5 separate regions of the Homo sapiens genome follow, and regions 2, 3, 4 and 5 are each linked to region 1. The links come from fine-mapping of genetic effects on gene expression. A gene starts in region 1. Each other region holds a variant in brackets. All regions are shown on one strand. Distances are between the middles of the regions. Region 1 holds the start of RNF141 (ring finger protein 141). Region 2 overlaps IRAG1 (inositol 1,4,5-triphosphate receptor associated 1). Region 3 overlaps IRAG1 (inositol 1,4,5-triphosphate receptor associated 1). Region 4 overlaps IRAG1 (inositol 1,4,5-triphosphate receptor associated 1). Region 5 overlaps RNF141 (ring finger protein 141).

Region 1 (6,162 bases):
ATTAACAGGAGAAAAACACACAAATTTTATTTAGTAATTTTTATACATACACAGGAGCCCTCAAGAAAAATAAGGACTAAAAAAAGTAATTAAGGCCAAAAGCTTACATAGTAGATTGGACAAAGGAGAAGTAAACTGTGAAAACATGACAAGACACAAGGGTTTGGGCTGGGCCAGTTAATCACAGAAAAGTGACTAGGAAGATAAGGGTTACTTTAAGAAGGCTTCTTTGAACACATTTCTCTCAGCTTTGATTGCCCACTTCTAGTAATGATAATGTCTTCCTCCTGGCATAGAGAGGACATCTTTCACATGGCTGTTTTATCTCCAGCCTTCAGGAAGAATTAGGAGGGTCAGTGGGCACTTCTTACATCTGCTGCTTTTCAATGTGCTTTTAACTCAAAATAATCCTTATGCCAAAGTGGCGTATTTTGCTACCCTACATTACCCACCAAAACCATATTTCAAAAGAAGAGTTAGTTGCTTATTTATTGAGTTATTAATAGAAAATGATCCCCTTTGTTTCAGCATTGTTTTCATCTGCTGCCCTAACTTTGAGTAAAGTTTATAATTTGAGGCAGCATATTAACTTGTTATCTTGTAACTGTACTTGGTATCTGGGAAACTTCATCACTAACTCCTTGCATTAAAATGCAACAGTATCTAGAGACTACCTGAGAGAGCCTGCAGAAGTGGTTTTCAACCTGGTTCCAGAAAGAGGGCTTGACATTTAGTTTATTTTGAAAACCATAAAATATTGATAAATATTAACATCTATCACTATATGGGTGTGAAAATAAGATATGACTCTGTGATCTGCATACAATATAAAACCACAACACAGAGTGCATGTTCACGAAAACAATCTGTTGAGGCCATCCTCTAGTCAACCACCACAGCTTTTCAGTGTCCCTCTTTGGTGACTGCACATATTTCTATCATACTATGACATTCGTTAAGTCACTTGGCCATTTCCCTCTAGTGAGCTTCTTGAGGACAGCAGCTATGGTCTGTCTTCTGGCAGATACACAAGCACTCAATAGATGTTTACTGAATAAATGCAGTAAATACCATTGGCAGTTTTTGTTTTATTATTATTCACTTAGTATTCTTTTGACTTTTGTTAATTTGGTCAGTCATCTATTAGTACTAGGTTGGAGAGAAGCAGAAGTTAAAAATATGTATGAAAGAAAATGTAAAACTGTGAAAATCTGTCATTAAATTAATGCTTATGTAAACTGGGAAACATTTACTATTTGATTTTAACAAGATACTCCCCCCTAGGCCATGCAACAGTGGTATTGCATAGAAACATAATTTGCAAACCACTGGCACAGAATTCAACAAAAGATGAATTTCTGGTCAAGATTTCTCAAAGAACTAGCAGCTCTCATATTATTGTGCCACCTATAACACAGTCATTTTTTGCAAGATAAAAATATGCTTTCAAAAAGCATTTGAAGGATTTTCTAAATAAAGAACTGTTATTTTGAAATGCACAAGATCAAGGATTCCAAAAATGCCACATTCTCTAGTGGGTGGTACATAGTGAATCACTTATTTTTCTAACAAATGAATTGTGGAAGTTCAAATATTCCTTATAAAAATATTAAAATTACATCATGGGTAACTGGCAAAGCAAAAACGAAAAAACTGCTCAAAAACTCCTAAAAATTTAAACCATAATTCATTCATAAAATAACTAAAGCAAAATGGAAAAGGCTGAAAATGCACCAAAATGACTAAATGACAAGTACTGCACTGTAGTATTTTAAAAACCTCTCTGAAACCAGTTCTCCATCAAATTTTGTATCAACCTCACCTAAAAGGATTTAATTGAAATAAACATCAATGATTTTCACTGTCAAGTCAACTTTAACATCAGTAATAAATACCAAGTACTACTGACTGGGTCCCTAAGGATATTATTTACTTTATTACTCATTGTTTACTCAAACTGTAGATCTGTAAACAGATATCAACTTTTTTTTTTCAAGACAAGTTAATATAGATACATAGTGAAATAATTAGGCCAGAGTCACTATAGAGTCCAGAATGCCTGTTCCAGAATCAAAGATCTTGATCAGAAAAAGATACATACATATATATTAGAGAGAGAAGGAGAGAGAAACTACAAAAGGATAGAGTGCCGTACTAGGAGATTAAGAATATGGATTTCTCACAGTAACAGTGTGTTTACTAAATGCATTTCATATTGGAAAAAGCATATTAGACTTGTAAGAATTCTCTCTGGACCTCCCTTGCCTTTTTGGGAAGGAAAGCGTGTTTGTATTTAGATGGGAACCAAGAAGGATCAGGCTACACACATCGAATATAAAGTTCATTTACACCAAATGACAAATATTAATTTTTGAAACATATAGTCATATTCTTGAGAAAAAGTTCTAGAAACTGAAGTCAGGCAATGTGAAAGAAAAGGATAAAAATCCATACTATTTTTGAGCTCTGAATTCAGAAAGCATCACTTCTCAGACGGGTGACTTCGACATGGAGGTGACTAATTTAGGATCGTCGGCCGGTGGCAGCTCATGCCCCCAGACAAAATTCTGAATGGGTAGAGGTCATTTTATAGCAAGAAGAATGGGCAGAAGGGAGTGAAAACGAATAAATTCGTGCTGAAGATGTAAGAATTATAAACAATTGAAAGTGTTCCAGCAGCTTTATATATATGCCAGAGGCAAGAACTGAATTAGCTGGCACCGCTAAATAGGACAGTGTCAGAATATAAAAGGTACACTACCTTTAATAAGGGGCATAGGGATCGATTTCAATAACAATCGTAAATCCACATTTTGTAACGCCGAGACAAATAACTGAAGGAATAATTTCAAAAGCTAACACAGAAGCCTTCTGCTCCTGCTGTGTAATCACTACCTTCTTATTATTAGCAAGAAAACGTTCTTTTCTTAGCCGGGTCTCAAGGTAGCAGCTAGTTTGACAAGGAAAGACCTTTGGGAAGGGTAGCAGCCTAAGCCAATTCATAAGTGTGGGGCTGGCTAAGTAGATCGACGTGGCTATTTCTGAGCTATCGTCCCAGGCAAAAGGTTTCTTATTTGGGTGTCCAGCCCGGCGGAGACCGAGCCCGCGGGCCACCCTAGCGCTCGCTCTGGCTACGCCGCCTCAGCCCCTCCTCAAGCGCACCTGGACATTTAACCAACAGCTAAGTCCGGCGGCCGAATGACTGAGCCGGCGGCAATATTCAAACAACCGTTTTGGGATAGAGAAGGAAAAACTCTCTCCGGGTCCCTCAGAACCACCCCGAGGCGGGACAAGCCACCGCCACCCCGGGCAACTGGAACCCGCCGGGCAGAAGACGGGCGTCAATAGAATGGCCTCCCCAGCCGTCCCCACGCCCCAATCCGAGGCCCGGGGAGGGCGGCGGGGCTAGGCCTGTCTCCCCGCGGAAGCCTGGCTCGGCAGCGGAGGGCCCTCTGGGGTTTCTCTTCCCAGACCCAGAGTCCTGGAGCAGCTAGCAAGGGAAACACGAAAGGACAGCGCCGCGGAGCTCACCCCAGGTTCAAGGCATCGCGCACCCTGCGGCAGCGGCTGCGCTGCCTCAGCCCACAGCTCAGACCTGCGGGTGGCCGCGACTCAGGCCGGGACCCGGTCGCACCTCTGTGACGCAAAGCCCCGCCCCCCGCGCGTTGCCGGGAGACGGCGCCCAACCTTCCTCTGCAGCGCCCCTACCGACCCGCGCTCCGCAGCTCCTGAGGGCTTTCGAGCCCAGATGGTCATCTGAGACGAGAGGTGGCGGCGAAGGAGAGTCTCGCCTGTCACGCTCCCGGAGCAGGGGCTTCATGAGGTGGCCATGGAAACAGCCTGGCAGACTCCCATCTCTCCTGGTGCCATCTCCGGAGCGGAAAGTGGAGCGCCCCGCTGGCGACCAAGGCCGCACTGAGAGCCCTGGTTTGGTCAACAGTTGGGCTCCAAGGTACCACTTCCCAGACCTCCAGCCTCCCCACTGATGATAGATACACAAAGGTCATCTTGTTTCTTTATGAGGCAATGGATTGTGTTCACCTAGCCGAGTTGTTAAGCATAAGAGAATGTATGAAAAGTAATTACAAGGTTCAAAATCCTGAGCTTTGATAAATGATAGATATGATGATGAGCACATGTTAGTGATATTACTGCTCTGCGGGACGTCTGAATCAGTAATTGCTGTCTTTTAAGCATCTGTTGTGTGCCAAATACTGCACTAGGCACTTTACGGGCATTGCTCTTGTTTAAGTCGTCTGGTCAAAGTTGCCTAGACAATAAACAGCAGAGCAAGGATTTTAACCCAGGTACAGCTGACACTGCTGCCTCTATGCTTAGCAGTTAAACTGGTTTTTATGTTTCTTGTTTGTACACCCCTCCTTCACCAGTCACTTGTAGATTCACCTTGTGAAGAGCTAATTCTTCCCTCTAATAATAATACTCTTTGACCATTTACTATATGTCAAACCGTATTTTAAGGACTTTAAAGGTATTAATTCGTTTAATCTTCACAGCAATCCTGTGAGTAGGTATTATTAATACCTTCACTAAGACACAGGCTTAGAAAAGTCGATTAACTTTTCCAAGGTCAAACAACCATTAAGGAGCAGAGCCAGATTCAAACCCAAGCAGACAGAACCCTGAACCTGTGTTTTTAATTCCTGTTTTAAACTGCCTCGGTAGTACGGTAAGACTTCATTAGCGCTAGGTCCATGCCTGTTTGTGCACCATTATTTCCCTGACAGCCAGCATGGTACTTGTTCAATATTTGAACATTTGATGAATATTTGAACACTGGAAAAGGAAAAAGCTTAAAAATGAAGTATAAATAATGATTTAATAAATTCCAAAAGATATCAAATTCAACAAGATTCCATAGTTCAGCCTAATCCGGGCCTGGGAGTTAGAAATATTACTCTGTAAAAATTGCCTTCAATTAAACATTGTATTGGAAGTTCTGGTCAATGAAATAAAAAAAGACAAATATATAAAAGGCATCCAAGTTGGAAAGGAAGTTGTAGCACTGCATTTATTTGCATAAGAAAATTGTGGAATACTACAAAAAAGCTGCTAGAACTCATAAGTGAGTTTACAAAAGTTGCAAGATACAAAATCAAATATACAAAAATCAGTTGTATTTCTATATACTAGCAATGAACAATTAGAAATGGAAAATTTTTAAATATCTCTTATCAGCAAAAAAAAAAAAAAAAAAAAAAGCAGCAAATTTGGGACAAATTTGACCAAAGATGAGAAAGACATGTATACTGAAAACTATAAAATATTATGGAATAGCAAAGACATGGAATCAACCCAGGTGCTTATCAATAGTGGATTGGATAAAGAAAGTGTGGTACATATACGCCATGGAATACTATACAACCACAAAAAGGACTAGATCATATCTTTTGCAGCAACATGAATACAGCTGGAGGCCATTGTCCTAAGCAAAATAATGCAGAAACAGGAAACCAAATACCGCATGTTCTCACTTATAAGTAGGAGCTAAACGTTGAGTACACAGACACAAAGTTGGGAACAATAAACACTGGGGATTCCAAAAGGGTAGAAAAAACTACTATTGGGTACTATGTTCACCACTTGGGTGACCTGGATCATTAGAAGCCTAAACCTCAGCATTGTTCGATATACCCATGTAACAAAACTACACGTGTACCCCCTGAATCTAAAATAAAATAAAAAACATTGTTAAGAGAAATTAAAGAAGACCTAAATAAATAGAGATACATTATGTTCATGAATCAGAAGACTGAGCATTTTTAAGATATCACTTCTGCCTAAATTGACCTACAGATTTAAGGAAATTCCAATAAAAATTCTAGCAGATTTCTTTTTGATGGAAATGACCAAACTAATTCTAAAATTTATATGGAGATGCAAAGGACCTAGGATAGTCAAGACTTTCATCAAAAAAAACAAAGTTTTGGGACTTACACTACCTGATCTCAAGACATTATAATAAGAGCTACTCAACACAGTATAGTATAGGTATGAAAATAGATAGAGTAATGGAACAGTATATAGAACCCAGAGATGTATCTATACATATGTCATCAATTGATTTTCGACAAATATGCCAAGGCAATTCAGTGGGGGAAAAGATAATCTTTTCAACAAATAAACCTGAAAAAATTGAATAGC
Region 2 (6,162 bases), 36 kb after region 1:
GTCCTTTTCCTCGACCTCCCTTGCTTACAAATGGAATAGGGTGGGAGAGGGCCTGTGCCTGGAAGTACTCTTGCAGGCTTTTCTGTGGGGCAGCTGGAGGTGCAGGAGCTCTCCATAACTGCCTTCCTGGCCTTTGACTCATCCAGAAACAAAGGTAGGAAACTTGTGACCAAGTGAACAATGGGGCCAGCTGAGCCTGGCCCTGCTTTAAGGGAGGCAGAGATTGAACATTCCCCACCTGGAGTTCTGCTTCCACGGCCACTCTCTAGAACTCTATTTGCATCCTGTCTTTGGCTCTGAGGGCCTCATGTAGCTAAAGCTCCTTCAGTTGTATCCAGACCCCCTGGAAGAGGCCGGGCAAATCATCCACTTCTGCCCCCAGAGTCCCTCTGCCCTGCTCTGTAACTCTTTACCTTAATGGCACATCCTTGATCAACCCTGGCTTGGGCCTCAGTCATTTTCTAGCTACTGTAAAGGATGCCCCCTTCAATAAACATGCTATTTTAAAGTGGGGCATGCTTGGGGTGGGGGGTCTCTCTGAAGGAGTGACTGCATTGAGCCCAGTCCTTGAGCTTGGCAATGGTGTTGCTAGTCTGGTCTCATTCCTGCTCTCTCACAGAGTAGACTGAAAAACAGAATAAGCTGAGGTTAAGAAAGATGTTGCTTTTTGCATTGTGATGGTGCTGGTACTGAGAAGCATGCAGCATGTCAGCTGTCCCCAGGCTGCTCTCCACCACCTTAAATGTTTGCTTGTTCTTTTGAGCAACATTTAATGACACCCTCCCAAGCGTCAGCCACCATGCTAGGCACTTACCCAAGAGATGGGTAAGACATGGTTCTTGTCTTTGAGGAAAAATGCTAGGGGAGATGGATACATAAATAGGCCATGGTATACTATAGGTAAAGGTCAATAATAATAATGTTTAAAACGTGCCAGAAAGCACAGAGGAGTGTGTGACCTATTATGTTGTGTCTGGTGAGGAGTATGGAAGGAAGGTCATCAAAGCTGGTATGGAGGGGATAATTTTTGCACTCGGTCGAGAAGAGTGACCTGAAGAAAAGAGAAGAACAGCTGGAAAAAAAACTAGTGAGTGGAGGTCCAGCACTATGAGAGAAACTGTTTAGTTGGGGAGCCAGAGATGGAGTAGCTGATGGGCCACTTGGGGGAATGAGACTGAAATGTGAGGCTTCCAGCTAGGAGACCATCAGAAGAGTCAAGGAGAGCACAGCTCTGGAGCCAGCCTACCCTGGGGTTGAGCTCCAGCCCCATGATTTACTACCGGGGTGTCCTTGTCAAGTTACTTGTTCTTTTTGTGCTTCAGTTTCCTTATTTGAAAATGGGAAGGGTAATATCCACTTCGTATTTTTTTTTCTTTTTCTTCAGGACTTAAATGAATTCATACCTATGTAATACTGAGAACAGTGCTTGGCTCATAGTAAGTCGTATATGAGTTTTAGCAATGAAAGCAAACAATATCAATAACAAAACAAAAATGCAAAACAATGACAACAAAACCCACATGGAAATCAAACCTCTACAAAACTGATGAAGGCAGTGGCTGTAAAAGTGGGGAGAGAAGTCAAAATGGAGAGGGGATGTGCTCCTTCAGTGTTGTGCTAAATAACTGGGGATGCTCTGAAACACCCCTAATTATACTGGGGTTGGAAACCCCATTTGAACTGAAGCACTGAGGTGCAAGTTTACTCTTGCATGTGGTCACACACAGAGTAAGAGACTGAAGCAGAAAGCACATCTTCTCTCCTCATTCACCTGTGAGGTGGGTTAACTGTTTTCAAAGAGAGAATAGGGAATAGATTGTGCTGTACAGCAGCTCAGAGTTGGCATTTGAAATGGAGACTAGTAAGTCTGCCATTGAAGCCATGAGTTTTCTGTGTTTTTAAAACATCTTCAATCCATGTGGACAGCTCATTGAACAGGTGCCTGGTGACTGCCCCACACTGGTGAAAATCTGTGGGTTGGCTTGGCATGCATCTTATTTATCCAGAGGTACACACCCAGAGCACACTTTTGAAGGGTTGTTGGCTCTGTGCACAGGCATGTTGTGTGTGTGTACACAACAGTATGTGTGTATGTGTGGACAGATGCGTATATAATAATTCATATCTTCCCATTTCAAGCACTGAGCTAAATTCAGCCTATACTTTTTTTTTTTTTTCTGAGAAGCCTTTCCTACTTCTGTAAAAAGAAACTCTCATTCCAAAGGAAAGAATGGGAGGCTGAAGTTATTGAAAATGAGATGGGAAATGGGAAGATAGTCACTTTGCAACTCCAAATTCCAGGTCTGATGCTTAGGGTGTTAGTCATTAAGCAAATTCTTCCTGATAACCAATTACAGAGAGGAAAAAAGAGAGTAAGTTTTTTACTGCCCCCTACCTCCTCCTCCCCCGTGCCCCGCTCCTTACCCCCAACCACCAGTGAAGGTGTTTTAGTTCTCCCCAGCCACCTGAGCTAGGGGCAGGAGACCTTCCCTTCCAATAGAGTTCCTTGGTGAAGGTGACTTCTTCATCCACTGGATGCTTTCCCAGGGCAGTTTTGTTGATCCTCCAAGAACATCAAGTCACTGTGTATGAATAGCTCCCACAGAAGTGCCGAGTGTTAAAAGAACCCTTCCTCATGACCTGATGGGATGGGCGGCAGTGTGTCCACACTTGGGCCTGACGTTATACTTGGGGAAAGGGTGGTAGTCTGAGTGTCTCAGAGCAGGGCACTGGCTAGGTGTGAGGTTTCCTACTGCTCTGTAGGCTGCTCATGCTGGAGTCCTGAGCTCCACCAGGAGTCCCTCTGGGCTGCCGAGCAAGTGGATCTTCCAAGGGGCCCATCAGCCTGCTCTGCACAAGAGTTATAGGAATTGTAGAGCCCCAGCACAACAGTCAAGACCAGCATCACTGCAGCCATCATCCAGATCACTTGCCAGTGCTGACACAGTTTGGGATACATGACTTGTAAGAAATGGACCAATTCTTCAAGTTTGCTGTCAATGAAAAAAAATATGCAGAGGCTTTAGTATACTGGGCACACATATGATACACAGACCCACAGTTCTCTCTGCGGATAGCTTCCATGCTGTCTTGAGCAATAGTTCTCAAACTTAGCTGTGCCTAGATTGGGTTGGCAGCAATTGTTCAAAATACCCCAAGCATACTAAATGAGAATATCCAAAGTTATGGTCCAGGAATCATTGGCTAAATTTTCCCAGGTGATTTTGATTCCACCAGTCCACAGCCTTGAAGTTGAGAGCTACTT[A/G]TCTAGATCATTCTACTTAATTGTTTGATCATCCATCCATACATGCCCTCATCTATTCACGGGGTGATTACTGATATCTGCACTCTCCCAAGCCCGGGGGTACAGGATTGGTTGGCCATGCATCTTTTTAGCACCTAGCTGCATTAATGATCAGTTCCAAGCTCTAACCTGTGCCTTGCCTCAGATGCGTAATTCATTGTTCTCAGTTCCACATCTAACTGTGTCCAGAGTAGAAGGACTGTGCTAAACTCTAAGCAGCTTGATATCCAGTGATAAATGACAAGGGACTAGATCAACCTCAAGAGTTCACTTCAAACCATCCAAGAGCAGGCAGAAGATTAGAAGCCTCTAGCAATGTCTGGGTGGTTTGTTCATGATGTTATCTCAACCTCATTAATATTTATTCTCTAATTTCTCCCTCTTCCTCCTCTTCTTCCTTCACTCTCTCCACACTTCTTTCTCTATCCCTTTCATCTCTCTCTTCCTCTCCATTTTTGCCCCTTTTCCCTCTTGATTCCTTCCCAACTGTCTTTCATTTTGTCCTCTCTCTCTCTCTGTGGTGTGGTAAAAAGACACCGGGCAGATGGCCTGCTTTGACAAGTTCATTCTAGAGCTCTCTGAAGAAGCCCTGAGCCCCTTCATTAAGCCAGGATTTCCTGATGTTTTTAACCTCTAACCCAATTTAAAAAATAATATGAAAAATGAGAATACTGAGGATTCCTGAACCAAGGAGGTGGGGAAAGTGATAGAAGTGCTTTCTGAAGATCCTGAGGCTCATACACACACAGCAATGACCAAGCCATTGGCTGAGAAGCGGAGAGCTCAAATTTTGAGGTAGCAGAAAATGCATGACTAACAAAGGATTGACAGACTCAATAAATGCCCTCCTTAGAAAGGGACCAGATGCTCAGAATGCCTGCCTTGGATGCTAGGGCCACAGAGAACATTGACAGGTTTCCGTTCCATGCGGGAACCCCATCAGATCATTTCAGTCACAATTAAGGAAAGCACGAAAGTGAACACATTCGCTGATTTGAAAATCATTGACTATTTTCACAACTGTTGGGAAGGCAGGGTTTAGAAGTAGAAGGTTATTTTCTCTCAGCCCTTTGTAGATTCTCTAGATTCTATTTAGACAGAGTTGGATGCTAAAATGGAGCCTTTGGGGCTGTATTTCCATCCTCCAAAACAAGGTGCCAGAGTGGCTTCTCCCTACTCTAACCCCACTCTTAAGTGTGGCTCTGGAGGAAGAGACCAAGATCTGTCTGTGTGACCTTAGCTGGTCACCCATGCCTGGCCTATAAAAGAGTTTAGAAATAGATTAGAAATAGAATTTCTTTAGAAGTCAATTTTTGGTTATAATAAGTAAACTTCTGTTTCCTGAGAGTTATTGGAAAAGTAAAGGAACCTAAATGTCCTCTTAACCCCATAGAACTGGTTTGAACAGCCGTTAGGAGAAAAGACAAAAGTTTTATCTTGTCCCTTATGAGTCTCACTTGTTCAATGTCAGAAGACTGTGCTTTCTGTTTTAATATGGTTAAAATATTGGGGTTTACCCAAAGTTTATTTAAACTGATCCTCAAGAGAGCAATATTTGTAACATAATTGTTATATATAACAGATACGTGACTCAGACAAAAATACTTTAATGTGTGATGTTGAATCTCTTAAGCGATCAGCAGCTGGGCTGAACCCAGTGTTTTAAAAATGCAATAAGTAGGACATGGAACTCTTAATAACCTCAAACCTTGCTTGTTAGTGAGGCACCAACATTTCAGGGAAGAAATCATGTTTGAGAGCAGGTGCATGATAAATGTTACAGGCACCATTGCCACTCACTGATGACCAGGAGCTGGACAGAAAGGAACCAAGCTAAGCCTTACTTCCCCTGGGGTTTCATGAAATGGGAGGGAGCTGACAATTGCCTGAGATTGAATTAGCTAGATAAGACATTGAGCCCCTTGCTTTGCAAACCAGACTGTTTATATTCCATGTACTCTCTCTCTGTTTATTTCTCTTTTGTTCTTTCTCAGTGTTTGGAAGTGTTAGAAGTTCCAGTCTGTCTCTGCTGTATTCACGGGTGCCAGAGGAAAGGCTTTTTGTCTAGGGCTTTGCTTGACTGCATTAAAGGGGAGGAAGGCAATGTGGTGGACTGAGAAATATCAGCAGAGAACCCTCAGGAGGGAGATGAGGCCTAAGGAGAACAGGATCTGGTTGCTTGGAGTAGGGATTGCACTTTAATTGTTAAACTTGGAGGTTCTTTCACTGGGGAGACAGTGTGTGATTTGTTTTCAGTGGAGAAGCATTTCTCCAGTTCTCCTAACGGCTCTTCCCCTGAACAATGGGGTCGACCAGCATGGGCTGAGACCTCTGACTTTAGTTGAATTCTCCACCAACTGGGCTCTATTGATAGCTCCTGTGTGCCTATCCATTTTGCTTCTAATCTTCACTTCATTACCTATTTGTTGCATGCATGTGGTTTCCAGAGTTTTCCAGCAATGAGGCACAGATACATACCCAGATTAGATAATATTTCAGCAGCTGATTAGATATTTTGTCTGGAGCTGCCCTGGACCCCAAGATATCCCAGGGGTCTAAAAATAGATTTTGGTGAAGGTTTTCCAAGGTGGCTATTACTACATTTTAAAAAATCAAAATTCAAGACTTGTGGTTTAACTATACTAATAGAGACAACATAGCTGAATATATGAAATTGGGCTGTCCTGAAAATCCAGAATGTTGGCATGGTTATTATATCTGTGGGGTAGAGTAACACCTCATCTATGGGTGCTAGTTTATCCTATCCCTAAGCGTGAACTTCTAGGGGATAATTCAGGCCAGGTGGGGCTGAGACCTCATTCCTATAATACTTCATTGCATGGAGTGCCCTGGAACTA
Region 3 (6,162 bases), 76 kb after region 1:
ATAGCCTAGGTCCTGCCAAAATTATTCAAACTAGCCAACCCTAAACATACTGAGGATACCTACCCTGCCTCTACCTTTCCTTTCCAAGAAAACCCCAGTAAAGGCTTGGGGCCATCTCTCCCCTCACCACTTCTGCCTTCTGACCCACCCTAGCCCTTCCCCAAGGGGCTCTGTATGATGTGCCACACATCCTGCTATTAGGGATCTGTGAGTATAAACCTATTCCTTCATGAGAATCATTTGTGGGTCTCTGTGTCATACCATACCTGATTAAAACAAATGCCAGGTCCAAAGTTTAGATTAAATTTAAAACCTATAATGCAAAAAAACTACCTCATAATTTATAGATTTCATGCCATCCCCATCAAGCTACCAATGACTTTCTTCACAGAATTGGAAAAAATACTTTAAAGTTCATGTGGAACCGAAAAAGAGCCTGCATTGCCAAGACAATCCTAAGCCAAAAGAACAAAGCTGGAGGCATCATGCTGTCTGACTTCAAACTATACTACAAGGCTACAGTAACCAAAACAGCATGGTACTGGTACCAAAACAGAGATATAGACCAATGGAACAGAACAAAGCCCTCAGAAATAATACCACACATCTACAACCATCTGATCTTTGACAAACCTGACAAAAACAAGAAATGGGGAAAGGAGTCCTATTTAATAAATGGTGCTGGGAAAACTGGCTAGCCATATGTAGAAAGCTGAAACTGGATTCCTTCCTTACACCTTATACAAAAATTAATTCAAGATCAATTAAGGACTTCAATGTTAGACCTAAAACCTAAAAACCCTAGAAGAAAACCTAGGCAATACCATTCAGGACATAGGCATGGGCAAGGACTTCATGTCTAAAACACCAAAAGCAATGGCAACAAAAGCCAAAATTGACAAATGGGATCTAATTAAAGAGCTTCTGCACAGCAAAAGAAACTACCATCAGAGTGAACAGGCAACCTACAGAACAGGAGAAAATTTTTGCAATCTACTCATCTGACAAAGGGCTAATATCCAGAATCTACAAAGAACTCAAACAAATTTACAGGAAAAAAACAACCCCATCAAAAAGTGGGCAAAGGATATGAACAGACACTTCTCAAAAGAAGACATTTATGCAGCCAACAGACACATGGAAAAATGCTCATTATCACTGGCCATCAGAGAAATGCAAATCAAAACCACAATGAGATACCATCTCACCCCAGTTAGAATGGCGATCATTAAAAAGTCAGGAAACAACAGGTGCTGGAGAGGATATGGAGAAATAGGAACACTTTTACACTGTTGGTGGGACTATGAACTGGTTCAACCATTGTGGAAGACAGTGTGGCGATTCCTCAAGGATCTAGAAGTAGAAATACCATTTGACCCAGCCATCCCATTACTGGATATATACCCAAAGGATTATAAATCATGCTGTTATAAAGACACATGCACACGTATGTTTATTGCAGCACTATTCACAATAGCAAAGACTTGGAACCAACCCAAATGTCCATCAATGATAGACTGGATTAAGAAAATGTGGCACATATACACCATGGAATACTATGCACCCATAAAAAAGGATGAGTTCATGTCCTTTGTAGGGACATGGATGAAGCTGGAAACCATCATTCTCAGCAAACTATCGCAGGGACAAAAAACCAAACACCGCATGTTCTCACTCATAGGCGGGAATTGAACAATGAGAACACTTGGACACAGGAAGGGGAACATCACACACCGGGGCCTGTGGTGGGGTCCGGGGGATGGGGGAGGGATAGCATTAGCAGATATACCTAATGTAAATGACGAGTTAATGGGTGCAGCACACCAACATGGCACATGTATACATATGTAACAAACTTGCACGTTGTGCACATGTACCTTAGAACTTAAAGTATAATAATAAAAAAAAGTATATTACTAAGTGAAAAAAGCAAGGTTTGGAACACCTTGTATAATATACTACGATTTATGTTTAAAAAATCCACTTTTGGCTGGGCGCGGTGGCTCTCGCCTGTAATCTCAGCCCTTTGGGAGGCCGAGGCGGGCGGATCACGAGGTCAGGACATCGAGACCATCCTGGCTAACGTGGTGAAACCCTAGCTCTACTAAAAATACAAAAAATTAGCCCGGCGTGGTGGCGAGCGCCTGTAGTCCCGGCCGAGGAAGGAGAGCGGCGTGAATCCGGGAGGTGGAGCTTGCAGTGAGCTGAGATGGCACCACTGCACTCCAGCCTGGGTGACAGTGAGACTCCATCTCAAAAAAAAAAAAAAAGAAAAATCCACTTTTACATATATGTCTATATTTAGAAATGCTTGGAATATATCTAGAAGTTACACTAAAACATAGTGACAGTGGTTGCCTCTGCTACTGGGGGACAGAGATGTAATGAGACTTACTTTTTCCTATGTCTCATTTTGTACTTTTTGAATTTTGTACTATGGACATGATTATTTATAAAAATTGAATTAAAACTCATACCAAAGCAAAAACAAAAAACAAAAAACAAAAAACAAAAAACTACCTCAGTAACTCCAAACCCTTTATGCATTTCATAATACATTTTTTATACTTTTAGAAACCAATTTCTCTTCTTTGGAGGAAGCAGTTACCAAAATTCAGCAAGTCTTATAGTTTCACTTCAAGTTCAATTAAATTCTAATAGTTTTAATTTCAAACAAGTATATCTAGTATAATCTCCCTCTTTTTCCCTTCCTCCTTCTGTATTAGTGGGGAAGGAGGTGTTTAGTGTAAGCTATTTTTACTTTCTTCCTTGTATTTTTCACTATTGGTTGAATTTTTAGATATGAACATAAGCCACTTTCAACAAAAAGTAATAAATTTATTTTCAAATATATCTCCCAGGACTAGCTCATTCCAATGAAAATATTTGTTTCTGACCATGTCAGGGACTTGGAAAAATTACTTTTGGAGCTCTGAAAGATGCTCTGAGTCCCAGGATGGTTCCTAAAAGTCAAAGCTGCTAGTTGGGGATAAA[CT/C]TTTTTTTACCTCTTTCTTCTCAGGGAGGCCTCTTTCCTGCCCAAGACCTGAGGCTCTGAGTCTAGACTGGGGGTTTTGGAAGGACTGTCCATTCGATGTACTTCTCTGCCTCAGCCTACGTGTCCCTCAAAATCCAGGTCCAGATAGCCAACTACCTTCTAGACGTTGCCACCTGGTTAAGGAGAATAAAAATCATTTCAAGAGCCACCATTTACTGAACATCAACTATGCAGTAGATACACTTTGTCATTTCTTACAATAGTACTGCAAATAAAAAATAGCTTAAACACCTCCTTCCCCACAAATACAGAAGGAGCAAGGGAAAAAGAGGGAGATTATACTAGATATACTTTTTTGAAATTAAAAGTATTAGAGTTTAATTGAACTTGAAGTGAAGTGAAACTGTAGGACCTGCTGAATTTTGGTAATTGCTTCCTCCAAAGAAGAGAAATTGGTTTCTGAAAGTACAAAGAATGTATTATGAAATGCATTTTCTGGAGAAACTGAAGCTCAGCTGAGTTAAAGTGATTTACTAGGGTCCAGCTTATCAGCAGTACAGCCAGAATGCAAAACCAGGTTTGTCTGTTGCATTCAAGCTGCTTTCCGTGGGCATTTGACATGTCCAAACTCAAATTCACTGTCTTCCTTCTCAAGCAAACTCCTCCTCCTGTCTCACAATTCATCACCCTCACAACCATGCAGACAGGTGCCTGGTGGTATTCCTGGTCTGCCTCTCAACTCCATCTCCTCATCAAGTCCTGACAAGCTGATCTCCAATAGCTGTCAAACTATCCTGTCCACATTTACTACCACCTCATTACCTCTCACCAGGCTATTTCCCTATCCTTTTACCTGGTGTCTCCCTGTCTCTAGCCTCTGCTGTTTCAGGCCAGCTCTCACAATCTGTCCAGAAGAATTATTCTAAAATATAGATTTGATCCTGATGCTTCCTTACCTGCAGGCTTCTCTTTCCAAAGTGTCCTAAATGAAATTCAAACTCATTAATTGGCCTTCAAAGCCTTCAATTTCCTTGGTCTCAGCCCACTGTTCCCACCTTGTTGCCCATCTCTCTGGGACGTGTAGCTCACACTTAGTTCACATGACATTCCTTCTGTTCCTGAAGTATGCCAAGCACTAGAAGATGCCTACATGCTTTTGCTTCTGCTGTCCCCCTGCTTGGGATGACTTTCTCTTCCCCAGCTCAAGGTGGCTCCTCCTGAAAACCTTCCCTGACTCAACCCCACTGAGCTAGCTGCTTCTTCCTCTTTGTTCCCAGGTACTTTATGGCCTGTTAAAGTTTTATCACAATTTATCGTAGTGACTTTGTCTATTCTTATGTTTCCTCTCCTAGACAGTGAGCTTATTCGTTCATACATTTGTTTAATGTTTATTGAGTGTTTACTATGTCCCTGGCAATGAGCTGGGAGCTAAGGATACAATGCTAAGCAAAACTGACATGCCACATCCTCTGGAGCTCATTATTCAGGGGAACAGAGATTAATCAGAGAAACATCCAAACAATTTCACACTGAGAGATTTTACAAAGGAGAAGGGATCCGAAGGTACCAGCAAACCCTTCCCAAGAAAAGTGACATGAGCAGATATCTAAAGATTGAGTTGGGAGTTCATTAGGCAAAGAGGGAGAGAGGAAGAACATTCCATGCAGAAGACAGAATGTGCCATGCGTAAGAAGAGGAAAGAATGAGCTGCCGAAGGCAGGCCAAAATATTGTGAGTGAGAGTGAGTGTGGCCCTAGAATATGCTGGGGAAGTGGGTGGGGTTAACTATTCAGGGCCTTGTAGGTTCTACTGAGGATTCAAGTGCTCTTCCTAAGAGCAGAATGAAGCCTCTGAAGATGCTGAAACAGATTTGCCTTCTAGAGATCCCTGCGGCTGCTGTGTTGGCCATGGTGTGAGCTGGGTTGGGGGTTGGGAGTGCAGGGAGAGGGGACCAGGTTGCAGGCTGTTGAGTTAGCCAAGGGGACTGATAATGGTAGCTGGGACAAGGCCTTCTCCCTGATGGTGGGGCCTGAACCCTTTTCACTTAATGCATCCCCAGCACACAGCCTAAGAACTGGCCCACAGTCAGTCTCACATATTTGGCTTGAAATAACCTGCAACTGATCAAAGATCAAAACAGCATACAATATAGTTCCTGAGAAGGGAACTGATTGGGTTGTTGGAAAGACTAGATGCAGCACAGAAATGAGCCTCCCAGTCCTCACAAACTGAAGGAGAGCCAAAATTCTTCAGACTCCAGAATGTTCTGATAAGTATCTTTTCCCATTTCTCAAAGGAACAGCCAACAACCATCATAAGAGACTGGATTTTTCCCCATGAGTTCATATGCAGGGCTGTATTTAGTGCCTATAAATACAATCTGAGCCAGCTCTCATAAAATGCTCCCAAAGCCTTTTATCCTGGGTATGGGAGGGGACGGGGCTCTTTGATGGGGCTTTCAGAATATAAGAAAAGAAAGTCACAAGTCTGCAAGTATTCATTAAACACGGAGGGTTGCCCACCACATCTCTAGCACTGTGGAGCACAGTGTACAAGAATATCCCATTTGGTTGGCAAGATAGAGTTCTACAACCTAAATGACAGAAATGAAAATGTATGCCAGGTTCCTGCTGGAATAAAGACCAGTATCACATGCAAACATTACAGCAGCTTAGTGAAGTAGGTACTGTTATTAACCTCCTTTAAAAGATGAACAAACTGAAGCGTGGAGAGAATTAGAACCTTGACCAAGGCTATGCAGCTGGTAAGTGATGAAGTCTGAGCTCTTAAGCATCCAGACCCTAGAACTGAGAGAAAATGAGAGGGAGTGTATATTGTTGGACACTGACCATGGTTAATTTTATTTTTAAAATTTGGTGCTTATAGGAGTCACATTCATTTGCCTGATAATTTTACTTCTAAGATCCATCTTATGCCCTATTAATATTGGATAATAAAGTTTTGCTGTAGGTAGTGGATGTCTAAATTGGTATAATTTTGTAAGCTAATCTGGCAGTGTGCACATATACATTTAAAAGTAAATACTTTTAACCAATCAATTGCAAGTCTAGAATAGTAGCCCATGGAAAAAACAGATTTCTATAAAGATCTATGTAAGATAGTATTCATTATAACAGTGTTTTTAATAGAGAAAAAAAGTGGAAATA
Region 4 (6,162 bases), 98 kb after region 1:
GGTAGTGGCACCCACACACCCCTGAGGTTCCACGACAGTCCTACCTTTGGGTAACTTTGACATTTCAGTGATCGTAATTTGTTAGAAGACTCTCCTGGGGTTTTCTCTTAGGTCCTTCCATCAACTTAAGAGGGTGCCTGTCATTTTCCTTCTCCTCCTTCCCACCCCCTTGACTGGCATGTGCTGCCACTGCTCCCTCTGTGAGCACCTGACTGCCTTTGCCAAAGGCCTGCCTCCTAGCGTCCCAGAGCATGTTGCTGCCACCTCCACTATTGGTGCTGCCTCCCGCAGCTTCAAAGCAGTGGGTGCCCACTGTCTCTATTGCCACTTTCCCTGGTGGGCCAAATCCTTCTAGAGCCCCTGCATATGAAATGTTTTCACCTCCACTAGCCCCACTGGCGGTGGGAGCTGCCAATGGGCTGGAGCCTCTGGCAGAGCCAGGCTGTGTTCTTGAGCCTTCAGTGTGCAGGTGTTGGTTCCCTGCAAGGTAGGGAGGAGGCCTGCTCTCCTTTTGACATTATGCCTTGTTGTGAAATGGGTCTCATACAGTGCTATCTGGACTTCTTACGTCCCACAATTTTTAGTGAACCCAGCTTTTCCCATTTTCATTTTCATCTCTTCCCTTCTTTGGCCCCAAGCATAAGGCCACATGAGCTGGAGAAGTCTCTGGGTGAGAGTCCAGCTGGGGAGCACCATGCTGCTTCTCTTGTGGAAAGGATGCTTTTATGTGGAAACCCAGAGCCAGATCCTTGAGGAGATGTTCATTGGGCTCTGTGTTCTTATCCGGGAGCGATTCAGTGCAGAAAGCTACAGTGGCTGAAGGAAGAGGAGGCACTCAGAATCTCCCGGGACATGGAAGGGAAGCTTGGGCAGGGACGTGGGCTGTGTAGAAGCAGAAGGAAGCAGCATTGCCTATTGGAAGGGTCAGACAAACCTGGGCTCAAATTTCAACTACTAGCTATGTGTCGTGGACAAGTTATTTAACCTCTCTATGATCCATGATTATAAAGTCTAACTCACAAGGTTAGTGTGAAGATTAAAAATAACATTGATAAGGTACCTATGCATGATTGACATTTTTATTTATTTAATTTATTTAGTTTCTTCAGTGCAGTGGCACAATCATAGCTCGTTGTAGCCTCTGCCTCCTGGGCTCAAGTGATTGCCCTGGTTCAGCCTCCTGAGTAGTTGGGACTACAGGTGTGCACCACCACGCCTGGCTGACTTAAAAATTTTTTTTTTAGAGACAGGGTCTTACTATGTTGGCCAGGCTGGTCTTGAACTTCCAGAATCAAGCGATCTTCCCACGTCTGCCTCTGAAGGTGCTGGGATTAAAGGTGTGAGCCACGATGCCAGGCCATGATTGATATTCTAAATGTGCTAAGCATCTAGCATATGATTAATGTTTTAAATAAATGTGTACATTACTTTAGATTTCTTTCTCTTTCAACAAACACTTTATGGTTATCCACCATGTGCCAAAAGCAACTTGAGATATGAAGAGAAGACCCTAAAGGGCTCGCAGTCAAGCAAGGGATACAGGGAAGTAACTCATAATAAATATAAGGAAACAAGGGATGGACCACATTCTGTGAAAGCTCAGAGGAAGGAAAAGAAAACTCTTTAGTGAGGGGAGTTAAAGAAGACTCTATAGAGGAGTGGACATTTGAGCTAGGTCTTGAAGGATGAATAGGAGCTTGCACGACAAAGATGTTAGAGGACAGGATTTGGCCAAAGGGAATCGCATTAGCAAAAGGCATTACTGGGAATCAGGGATTTGTCAGTGTAGCTGGTGCAGGTGCATGGACTATGACATGTGAGATAGGAGAGGTCAGGGCTGGGGGAATTGTGAAAGTACAATAAGAGATTGAGCCAGCTTCTGAAGGACCTCGAAGCTACTCTAATGAGTTTGGTCTTTATGGTTTTGGAGATGGGAAGCCCTGAAGGTTAGGCTTGAGAATAACTTAACTACCCAAAGGGAAATACAGAAATGTTGACAGCAGATCATCCATGCATCCCTCTATTCACACTGGTTGAGATGACAGAAGAGGCCCAGTTATTAGAACATCTATCATCCCCTATAGGAATTCTGAGGAGCTCCCTGGTAAATAGGAGCTGTGTCTCCATTTGGAAACCTAGAGCTGGCCAAGAGGGAGTGACAAGAAGTCAGCACGTGCTTGTGGCTGAAACCAAGACTGGCTGACCTGTCCTCATGATCCCAGAGCTCCAGTCCCTCTGAGGACACAGATACCCATCCTTCTGTCAAGGACTCCCCCTAGAAGAGACACCCAGGGAGTTTTCTGAAAAGCAACAACTCATTCTCTGGATAGTATGCCTTGATGGGCTGGTGATAAGCTTGTCCTCCTGTGGCTTTATCCCTCCGTTCCTATAATGGCACAATGGCCAAAGGCCTGCTCTCTCTCACAGGAAGATTATGCAAGTAAAAAGAAATGACGAATGTGTATGCACTTTGATAAGTGTCATATGGTCTACAAGTACCCTTGAGTCATGATTATTATTAAAATGAATGATGGCTCTATTCAAGGTGAGCCAGTTTTTCCCATCTTTTGTTCAGTGGGCTCCCCTGGTGGGAGGCCAGCAAGCAGCAGAGGCTGGGGTTTCCAGGGGACCAGAAGAGAAGTGGAACAATGATCTGGGGCCCCGAGGACATGCAGTGGAACAGTATTCACAAGGGCTGGGGAGGTTAAGAAGGGGAAGCAGTGTGTCAAATGGCAGGTAGCCAGATAGAGGGGGCAGCAGGCAGGGCCAGGGGCAGGTGCCAAGCTAAATGGGAGAGCCAGGGAAGAAGAAGGAATAGGGAGTTTTCTACTGTGTGGGTTTTCTGGTGAGTAGGAAGAGCTGAAGTCTTTCCAGAGGAATCTCTTCACATCATTAAAAAGGAGTAGCATTAGCAAAAGGCATTACTGGGAATCAGGGATTTGTCAGTGTTTCTGGCAGGTGTGATCTCTTGGATGTCAATTAAGCAATCAGCATCCTCTGATGCATATTCTGAGCTCAGAGGTGCAAATTAGAGACCCATGTGCCTGTTTGCTAGTAGTGTTTACAAGTTTTTAAATTAGTTATCAACATTCCATAATTGTAAGAATTCACATAAAGGTCTGGATAGCCTGCTTTTCCTTAAACTGAAAGATCAAACAATCTTAGGCCCATATTTCTGCAGAGTAACCAGGTTTGAGCTATCCTAAATTGGCTTTCTTCAGTGA[T/C]TTGTGCTCCCTGGCCCCAAATGCATCTGAGTTACTGCCCTGTGTCATGTAGTTTTCATCCTGGCCTGGTTTTCCAGAGCACAGGAGGTTTGTGCTTAAAATCTCTCCCACCCACATCATCTGGGCAGCCTCATGCCTATCACCATGGGAACGCCAATGGAAACTCTGACTGTGCTTATAGCATGCGCGGGCTTCTTTCCCTGGATTTTATTCTGACTGTGAAAATTTGAGCTCTGAAAGTTGCCTTTTTCATGTCTGTCATATTTAGAGAATTTCTTTCTTGTATGAGTCCTCTGATGAACAAGAAGAAATGCATTTTGTCTAAAATATCATTTTTTACATGCATTCTATCATATGGTTTCCACCACCCCTTGTGGTGGGGCTTTACAAATTCCTGGCATGCATTGATGAGGATAAGCTGTGTCTATTTAAAGGGGCAGGATGGGCCAAACATGAGCTAATTCCATGTTGTATTCTGAAAAAATAATTGTGGTGGTATTAGGAGAGTTATAGCATATATCCATTTCTAACAGTTTCATATATTCAGGCTGCTAAATAAGTAAAATACATATTTTATTTTATTTTTATGTATTGTTTTGAGATGGAGGCTCACTCTGTCTCCCAGGCTGGAGTGCAGTGATATGATCTTGGCTCACTGCAACCTCCGCCTCCCGGTCAAGCAATTCTCATGCCTCAGCCTCCCGAGTAGCTGGGACTACAGGCATGCACCACCATGCCCAGCTAATTTTTGTATTTTTAGTAGAGATGGGGTTTCACCACATTGGTCAGGCTGGTCTCCAACTCCTGGCCTAAAGTAATCTGCCTGCCTTGGCCTCCCAAAGTGCTGGGATTACAGGCGTGAGCCACCATGCCTGGCCTTTGTTTATTTTTAATCTTATTGACACTATCTACTTCTCAAAGCAACTTGAAGTAACCAACAATAAAATATAAGATATAAAAACATGAGACTATATAAATGGGGGAATGATGGATGATTTGACAAACATAAATATCCCTAGCAGACAAGGAGAACCTCATGCTCCTAACAGTCTATGGTTGGGAGTTGTGGTTAAACTATTTGCCCTGAAACCTAATGAAGCCGTGATCCACGTGGCGCAGACTCTGAGAAGGCTCGCCTTACGGAACTGTTCAACAGAAAGAAAACCAGCATAGAAGGAACTTCATTCTTTACTCTCACCTCTCAAAGAACATGAAAGGGGAACAAATCTTCACTCCCATCCTGACCTCTCCTCTGCCCTTTTCTCTTTCCTTAACGATTCTCACGCCCCCTCTCTGATGACTCTTCCCCTGCTTGCCTCCCTGCCCAGATCCTCTGTCTACCTTCTTTCTCTTTTTCTCCTGCTCCAGCCTTTACTCCCCCAGCTCCATCCAGTTATTTTTTGTGCAGATTGTCTTCATTTGTTTGTATGATTGACTCACAAACATTTACTGAAGAGTCTTACAGAGCAAAGACCTTCTTGGAGAAGAGAGGGGCACTGGGCTGGCAATGATCAGATTCTGTTTGGCGTCCAAGAAAGGGATGTGGTCTGTGAACACTCCCACATTATTGGACCTTATTCTGTCCAATCATCCGGCAAACATTTATTGAATGCCTATTGTGGCCAGGGTCTATGCTAAGGTCTGGGAAGACAAAGGTGAACTGAGCGGGCCTCTGCAATGCTTCCCATTCATTAGCATGAAGGAATGGGGAGAGAAGGGGAAGTAACCTCCACTGCTATTACTAATAGTGCCCTCGGTGTTGATACCTACCAGGTAAATGGGTACAAGGCACGGGAGTGAGCTGCCTTCTGATAGGAGCTTTCTCTGCTTGCTGGCTAATGGTTACCTGAAGCAAAGCTCTCCTGACTGTAGGCATCTCACTGGGGAGGAGGACCATGGCAGAGGTGCCCATACAAAAAGGCAGAAACAAGCCATGGGTGGCAAGTGCCAAGCAGGTAACCGCAGACACTCACAATTCCAAGTGGCTTACAAAGCAGGAAGCATAAAGCGATTAGGAGGAAATCCTCTAATCCCTTGATGGAACATCCTGGAAGGTTCTTCACACTTGCCTTCTAATGTGTGCAAAATACACAACTCATAAAATCATAGTGTTCTTTCCCTCATCAGCTGACAGAATCGTTGAGCAAGCTCTGGGCAACTTCTCCTTTTCTGCAAAACTGTTTTGGTGGGAACATTCAGGTCTTGTGGGGGCTGTTTTTCACTCTATCAGGGACTGGGGAGACAGTAATCCAGGAGAGAGTGTGTGGGAAGATTCTAGGGGCCCTCTGGGGTGAATTCTGCCAGATTTTCATGCAGTGCACACACGCATCCCTGCTCCCATTCTGAGCTGTCAAACACAAGGCAGGCCTTCAAGAAAGCTTGGGAGAGCAGTAAGACCAAATAGCGTTGGCCAGACAACCTACTGGCTTAGGGGCTTCAGGGCCTCAGGCTCAGAAGCCACACTACCTTATGGTATACTTTTTAGCTGGATAACCTTGGGCAAGTTACCTTGCCTCTCTGTGCCTCAGTTACCTAATCTATAATGGAACTATCTCACAGGGTAGTTATAAGAATTAAACAAGTTGATATAGAAATAGGATTTCTGGATAAAGCACAGGATGCCCCAGTTATATTTGAATTTCAAATGTACAACAGATAATTTTTAGTATGTGTGTCTCAAATATTCCATGGACATAACTGTATTCTCTCTCTCTCTCTCGACTGAATCTTGCTATGTGCCCAGGCTGGTCTCAAATTTCTGGGCTCAGGTGATCCTCTCACCTGAGTAGCTGGGACTGCAGGTGTGAGCCACCATGTACAGCATATAATCATATTTTCATTTTCCAAATCTGGCAGCCCTAGATGGCAAGCCTGTGGAAGTGCACCTAGCACTGAGCAAATGCTCACTAAGCATTAGATGTTATGTTCCCTTATTATT
Region 5 (6,162 bases), 29 kb before region 1:
GTTGAACTAAGATTCTGTCTTGGACAACCAGCTATCACCAGACTCGGTAGGTTTGTCGCCTCTACCTACGAATCTTCCCACTATTTTGCTACATAGACGGGTGTGCTCTTTTAGCTGTTCTTAGGTAGCTCGTCTGGTTTCGGGGGTCTTAGCTTTGGTTCTCTTTGCAAAGTTATTTCTAGTTAATTCATTATGCAGAAGGTACAGGGATTAGTCCTTGCTGTATTATGCTTGGTTGCAATTTTTCATCTTTCCCTTGCGGTACTATATCTATTGCGCCGATTTACAATTTCTATCGCCTATACTTTATTTGGGTAAATGATTTGGTTAAAGCTGTTCGGTAGTAAGGTGGAATGGGTTTGGGGCTAGGTTTGGCTCAGAGCGGTCAAGTTGAGTTGAAATCTCCTAAGTGTAAGTTGGGTGCTTTGTGTTAAGCTACACTCTGGTTCGTCCAAGTGCACTTTCCAGTACACTTACCATGTTACGACTTATCTCCTCTATATAAATGCGTAGGGGTTTTAGTTAAGTGTCCTTTGAAGTATACTTGAGGAGGGTGACGGGCGGTGTGTACGCGCTTCAGGGCCCTGTTCAACTAAGCACTCTACTCTTAGTTTACTGCTAAATCCACCTTCGACCCTTAAATTTCATCAGGGTTATCGTAGTTTTCTGAAGTAGAAAATGTAGCCCATTTCTTGCCACCTCATGGGCTACACCTTGACCTAACGTCTTTACGTGGGTACTTGCGCTTACTTTGCGGCCTTCGTCAGGGTTTGCTGAAGGTGGCGGTATATAGGCTGAGCAAGAGGTGGTGAGGTTGATCGGGGTTTATCGATTACAGAACAGGCTCCTCTAGAGGGATATGAAGCACCGCCAGGTCCTTTGAGTTTTAAGCTGTGGCTCGTAGTGTTCTGGCGAGCAGTTTTGTTAATTTAACTGTTGAAGTTTAGGGCTAAGCATAGTGGGGTATCTAATCCCAGTTTGGGTCTTAGTTATTCTGTGTTCAGATGCATTAAAGCCACTTTCGTAGTTTATTTTGTATCAACTGGAGTTTTTTACAACTCACATGAATTTTAGCTTTATTGAGGGGAATTGATCTAAAACACTCTTTATGCCGGTTTCTATTGACTTGGGTTAATCGTGTGACCGCGGTGGCTGGCACGAAATTGACCAACCCTGGGGTTAGTATGGCTTAGTTAAACTTTGGTTTATTGCTAAAGGTTTATCACTGCTGTCTCCCGTGGAGGTGTGGCTAGGCTAAGCGTTTTGAGCTGCGTTGCTGCGTGCTTGATACCTGTTCCTTTTGATCGTGGTGATTTAGAGGGTGACTCACTGGGGCGGGGATGCTTGCATGTGTAATCCTACTAAGAGCTAATAGAAAGGCTAGGACCAAACCTATTTGTTTATGGGGTGATATGAGCCCGTCGAAACATTTTCAGTGTATTGCTTTGGGGAAGTAAGCTACATAAACTGTATGGGGTGTCTTTGGGGTTTGGTTGGCTCGGGGTATGGGGCTAGCAGCGGTGTCCTGCAAGCTTTTCTGACATCTTTTCTATAGCACTTTGTGCTTTTATTACATTGCTATACTTAATTGGCCTTTTGGGGGACAAATCCCTACTTTCCTTTGTGTTTGCAACTGGAATAAGAGGCAATTAATTGTATACTGGCTTAGGTTTCTAAAGCAACAGTTTTTGAGGCAGTTATCCCTTCTTTATCCTTAAGGGCTCAAGTTCACTTTATGTGTTACTTCAAATTGTACCGCTGAAACCGATCGACATCATTGCTCTTTGCCTCGTGAAAACAAATCACAGCTCCTGGGTTGTGATTTTTCACGGCCTCTTGGATTAAACAAGAGCCGAAAGCACTTTTCTCTTGCTTTCTCTTTACTTCTGAGTGTTGGTGAAACAATATTCTTCATTTCCTGCGTTTGAGACATGACTGAAGGTGATATACCCAAATACTCTGCCTGAACTATGATCATTATAAAGAACAAGTGTAACTAGGGGAATACTAACCAGATAAACAGTTCCTTGGAAATTTTTGCAATTAGTAAGATAGAAGATGACAGAGAGTAAGACTATAAACAGCTGCAAGCGTGTCAAAACCTATCTCTGCAAAGGCTTTTATGTATTTTGACAGTAAAATGTGCATTTCTCCACAGTATGATGATACAGTCAATTTAACTACCAACTGCCACTCATTCTTATGTCCTTGCACTTTTCAGCACTAAGATTCTACGATGTTTCTCTAATTACATTCTTATATTTTGGAAATGATTTTACAAGGTAAACAAACTACAATAGGGTTGAGCATTTTATTTTTGCTGTCTGTTGGGGTAGGGGTCCACAACCCCTGGGCTGTGGACAGTACTGGTCTGCTGCCTGTTAGGAACCAGGCCGCACAGCAGGAGTTGAGCCGCGGGCGAGTGAGTATTATTGCCTGAGCTCCACCTCCTGTCAGATCAGCAGCGGTATTAGATTCTCAAGGAGCATGAACTCTACTGTGAACTGCGCATACGAGGGATCTAGGTTGCATGCACCTTATGAGAATCTAACTAATGCCTGATGATCTGAGGTGGAAAAATTTCATCCCGAAACTATTCCCACCCCAACCCTGGTCTGTGGAAAAATGGTCTTCCATGAATGCAGTCCCTGGTGCCAAAAAGGTTGAGGACTGCTACAGCAGGGTGAATAGACATACGAACAAATGAGTCTGTTGTCAGCTGCTTAGGTTTGTATTGTATCGTCATTGTGTGGCCCAGCATGAATGTGAGTGACCTGTTAACTTCCCTCATCTGCAAGTAGTTTTCTTATTCCCGGATAGACTAAGCTTGACTTCAGACAATAGCAGTTAAAAATGCAAATTCTTCAGACTACCTTTTAATAAACTCAACTTCCCAATGTTAAAAATCACTGAATCAAAAGATATTTTCAAGCAGCCTTTTCTCCCAGATATATATTAGATATAAGGAAATCGAGTCCAATTTGAAATGAATTTTAAAACAGCACACAAACATCACAAGCCCCCAGCGCACAATATAAAATAGTTCTCTAAGGAATATAAACATTTAGTATATTAGAATGTGAAATTACATAGGAAAATAATCTCTTCAATTAGCTAAAATCACTTGCGAAAGATTATTTATTGCACAATTTATCAGTGGGTACTAAGAATAACACAGATCCTATTATTCTCAACCTCTAAATTCAGTACATAGTAAAATTCATTTTCTCAAACTAAGGTTCTATACATAATCGGAGTAAACCCTCTGTTACTGAGTTAGGATAGGGAAAACAAATTCCTTAGAGTTCATGAAACCACTTCACAAATCCTAGAAGGCACACATTATATTTCCTATCATAGTAAGTACATTTAAGTACTTCATATTTAAAAAAGACAAAGCTGTACAGAATACAAAAAGTGTACATTTCATCCATTAA[A/G]CAAATTTACAACTTTTACGATTAGTTATTACAGTAGAACTGACCTAACATTCACATCTAAATAATTATCACCCAGTTCAATAGAGCGAACAAAGAGCTGTGCTCATTTATTTATTTGATAAGGCTAATAACATTTTATATTCACAGTAGATCAGTAAGTGTCTTGGAGCTCATATTGTAAAATAAAAAGGTTTGGGCCCTATTGAGTCACTGGGCTCATTGTTAAATAACTCCTTGAAAGGTGAAGGATTCTGGGGGATAAAATCATTGGCTATCCCTGGAAAGATCCAAAACTCTGTAAGGTAACTCTGTTCACTTTTCAGAAACATTTTAAAATTAGGTAATCTGAATTAAACTCAGCAAGTCTAATCTAAAAGGACAATTTAAAATCTTAGAGCTGGAAAAGATTTCAGTGGATCATCTATCCCAAGGTTTTCAAAATATGTTCCATGGAATACTAAGAATCTATGGAGGAGATACAGGGTTCTGCAAATTTGACTTGAATTTAATTAAAAAATTTTTTTAAAAAAAACGACTCCCACTATATGTGTGTTACTCACCAAATTCAAACATGCTGGATATCACCAATGCATTAATGTTTTTATTCATTGACTTAATCACATTTATAGTATATAAAGTTTATATAATAAGGAAATTTATAATAATATGACTTTTATATAGTGGGGTATAGGGTATGTGTGTATGCACACGTGTTTAAAGGTTCTGTAAGATTTTCCTTGAAAAAGTTTTTGCTGCTGAAATAGTGTGAAAACCACAAATAAAGTCTCAGTTTCTAAAGTAAGAACACATAAACAAGAGTAAGAGACTTTCTCAAGGTCACACAACCACCAAGTGCATTGCCAGGTTGATATGATGGAACCCCTGGTACTCTGCTTGCATAAACCTCCATAGGGAGTAGTTAGCTATTTGGTACTTAGCTGTCCCATTATGAATGTCAATGGATTAGTCTTCAGTATTTTTGGGGGCGAAATCAAGCTACCCCTGGCCAGATGTTTTTCCTTGAAATTGATTTGAATTTTATTTGCTCGCCTATTAAAATCCTACTATCCAGAAATTCTGTCATCAATAAGTGGCAACTTAAATTGTGTACCCTGGTTTAGGAAAATAGTAATATTTGCAACTTATGAATGATAAGTCAGAAAAGTTACATGGAATGTTAAATTTTAAAGGAGATAGGCCCTTGTTTTATTACATGCCGAAATGTTAATGTTAGAAATTTTAGTTCATAAGCAAAAAAAATGGTTGAGGTGCAACTGAAGATCACAATTCCATTATTACTATATTGTTTCAGAATATTTTAATGGAAAGAGTATTTCAATGGAAGTACAGTGAAACAGTAGGAATGCCAAATTATCTTCTAATTTTCATAAGTATTTTATGTATATACGGTAAAAAAGCCTCACTCTATTTTCTTGTGTTTTTTTTTTGATTAGGAGTCTCGTTCTGTCTCCCAGGCTGGAGTGCAGTGGTGTGATCTCGGCTCACTGCAACCTCCACCTCCTGGGTTCAAGCAATTCTGCCTCAGCCTCCCGAGTAGCTGAGATTACAGGCACCTGCCACCATGCCCAGCTAATTTTTGTATTTTAGTAGAGAGAGGATTTCGCCATGTTGGCCAGGCTGGTCTCAAACTCCTAACCTCAAATGATCCACCCACCTCGGCCTCCCAAAGTGCTGGGATTACAGGTGTGAACCACTGCACTGGCCTCTTGTCTCTTAATCTAAGAAATTTGAGGACTCTGAAATCTCAGAAAGATGTTTTCAAGTTAAGGAAATAAAAGCACCATAAACCAATATTAAATGACCTATAGTAATTTAGAAATATAAAATTTAGTATTTGTGATGCAGAATAATTTCCTTCTGAAACTCCAAGATGTGTGAGCATTATCAAAGCCATTTAGAACAGTTACCCAGCTGTGGGAAAGCATTTCCAGAACAGCCAAGAAAATTCCCCAGGAGAAATCCATTTGCAAAGGAAAGTCACACCCAATTTTGTAGACCTCACCCAAATTATACAGTATGGCAAAAACAAACAAACAAACCTTTAAGTACAGTAGTTCCAAAACACACTGCTAAAGTTATGAAATAATTGTGGATCATTTCAAGTAAAAATTATTAAAGGAGCAATAATTAACCACAAGGGGGCATATATATATATACTCCTTAGATTCCAGCAGAAAGACTAGTTTTAAGTAGTAACATGCACGTTGAAGTATTCTACATTTTCAGTCACTTAAACTTTCCTCTCTCAGATGGCTACAACTTTTTAATATTCGAGGTTTATTTTATATCTAAGTAAAAAGATTCCAGAATACTCCTGCCCTGCAAAACAGTAGTGTTTTAGAAGCCTCTGGAAGTGTTGCTGTTACCTTTAGCAAAGAATTCAAGAGCTATTAGTTGTAATAATACAAATTTGAACAGATAAATAATAGGAAAATATGGTCTAAAACAGTAGCAAATTTTAGTACCACAAATGGAAGACATGGGAAGTTTATTTTTAAAAGGGGGACAAATGATCAGAATAGCAAAAATAAAAGAGTGGGGAAAATGGATTTTCCTGTGTCTGTGCCAGTGCCACAACCCTACATTCTTCCCCCATGACCAAATATTTGAGCCCACAATAGCAACAGAAGACTTTCACTTCAAGGTCATGGCCTGTGGGGCTGGCCTGCCTCATCAGCCATGTTAAGAATATAGTTAGCCATAT

What was found. PIP is the estimated chance that this variant, and not a neighbour inherited with it, causes the effect.
Region 2: its variant is fine-mapped to the expression of RNF141 in hypothalamus (GTEx, PIP 0.96).
Region 3: its variant is fine-mapped to the expression of RNF141 in whole blood (INTERVAL, PIP above 0.99).
Region 4: its variant is fine-mapped to the expression of RNF141 in whole blood (TOPMed, PIP above 0.99). The same link has a PIP of 0.9 or more in blood mononuclear cells.
Region 5: its variant is fine-mapped to the expression of RNF141 in whole blood (INTERVAL, PIP above 0.99).

Annotation. Positions count from the first base shown.
Region 1 is chr11:10,537,591-10,543,752 of GRCh38, forward strand. RNF141 (ring finger protein 141) reads right to left here and starts at 3,597. Exons shown (of 6, transcript NM_016422.4): 1 at 3,532-3,597. It overlaps IRAG1-AS1 (IRAG1 antisense RNA 1), which reads left to right and starts at 3,646. Exons shown (of 4, transcript NR_046375.1): 1 at 3,646-3,952. RefSeq lists an enhancer at 3,673-3,782.
Region 2 is chr11:10,573,583-10,579,744 of GRCh38, forward strand. IRAG1 (inositol 1,4,5-triphosphate receptor associated 1) reads right to left here. Exons shown (of 21, transcript NM_130385.4): 21 at 1-2,993. The coding sequence ends at 2,750. All of the region lies in intron 1 of IRAG1-AS1 (IRAG1 antisense RNA 1), which reads left to right. Among named protein-coding and RNA genes, the nearest start is that of LYVE1, 8.0 kb to the left of the region's middle. The variant A/G (reference allele first, on the strand shown) is at 3,266.
Region 3 is chr11:10,614,036-10,620,197 of GRCh38, forward strand. All of the region lies in intron 10 of IRAG1 (inositol 1,4,5-triphosphate receptor associated 1), which reads right to left. Among named protein-coding and RNA genes, the nearest start is that of LYVE1, 48 kb to the left of the region's middle. RefSeq lists a silencer at 3,483-3,683. The variant CT/C (reference allele first, on the strand shown) is at 2,995.
Region 4 is chr11:10,635,118-10,641,279 of GRCh38, forward strand. All of the region lies in intron 2 of IRAG1 (inositol 1,4,5-triphosphate receptor associated 1), which reads right to left. Among named protein-coding and RNA genes, the nearest start is that of IRAG1, 56 kb to the right of the region's middle. The variant T/C (reference allele first, on the strand shown) is at 3,225.
Region 5 is chr11:10,508,813-10,514,974 of GRCh38, forward strand. It overlaps RNF141 (ring finger protein 141), which reads right to left. Exons shown (of 6, transcript NM_016422.4): 6 at 2,861-6,162. The coding sequence ends at 6,104. It also overlaps the pseudogene MTRNR2L8. Among named protein-coding and RNA genes, the nearest start is that of MIR4485, 3.6 kb to the left of the region's middle. RefSeq lists a silencer at 310-604 and an enhancer at 2,167-3,077. The variant A/G (reference allele first, on the strand shown) is at 3,438.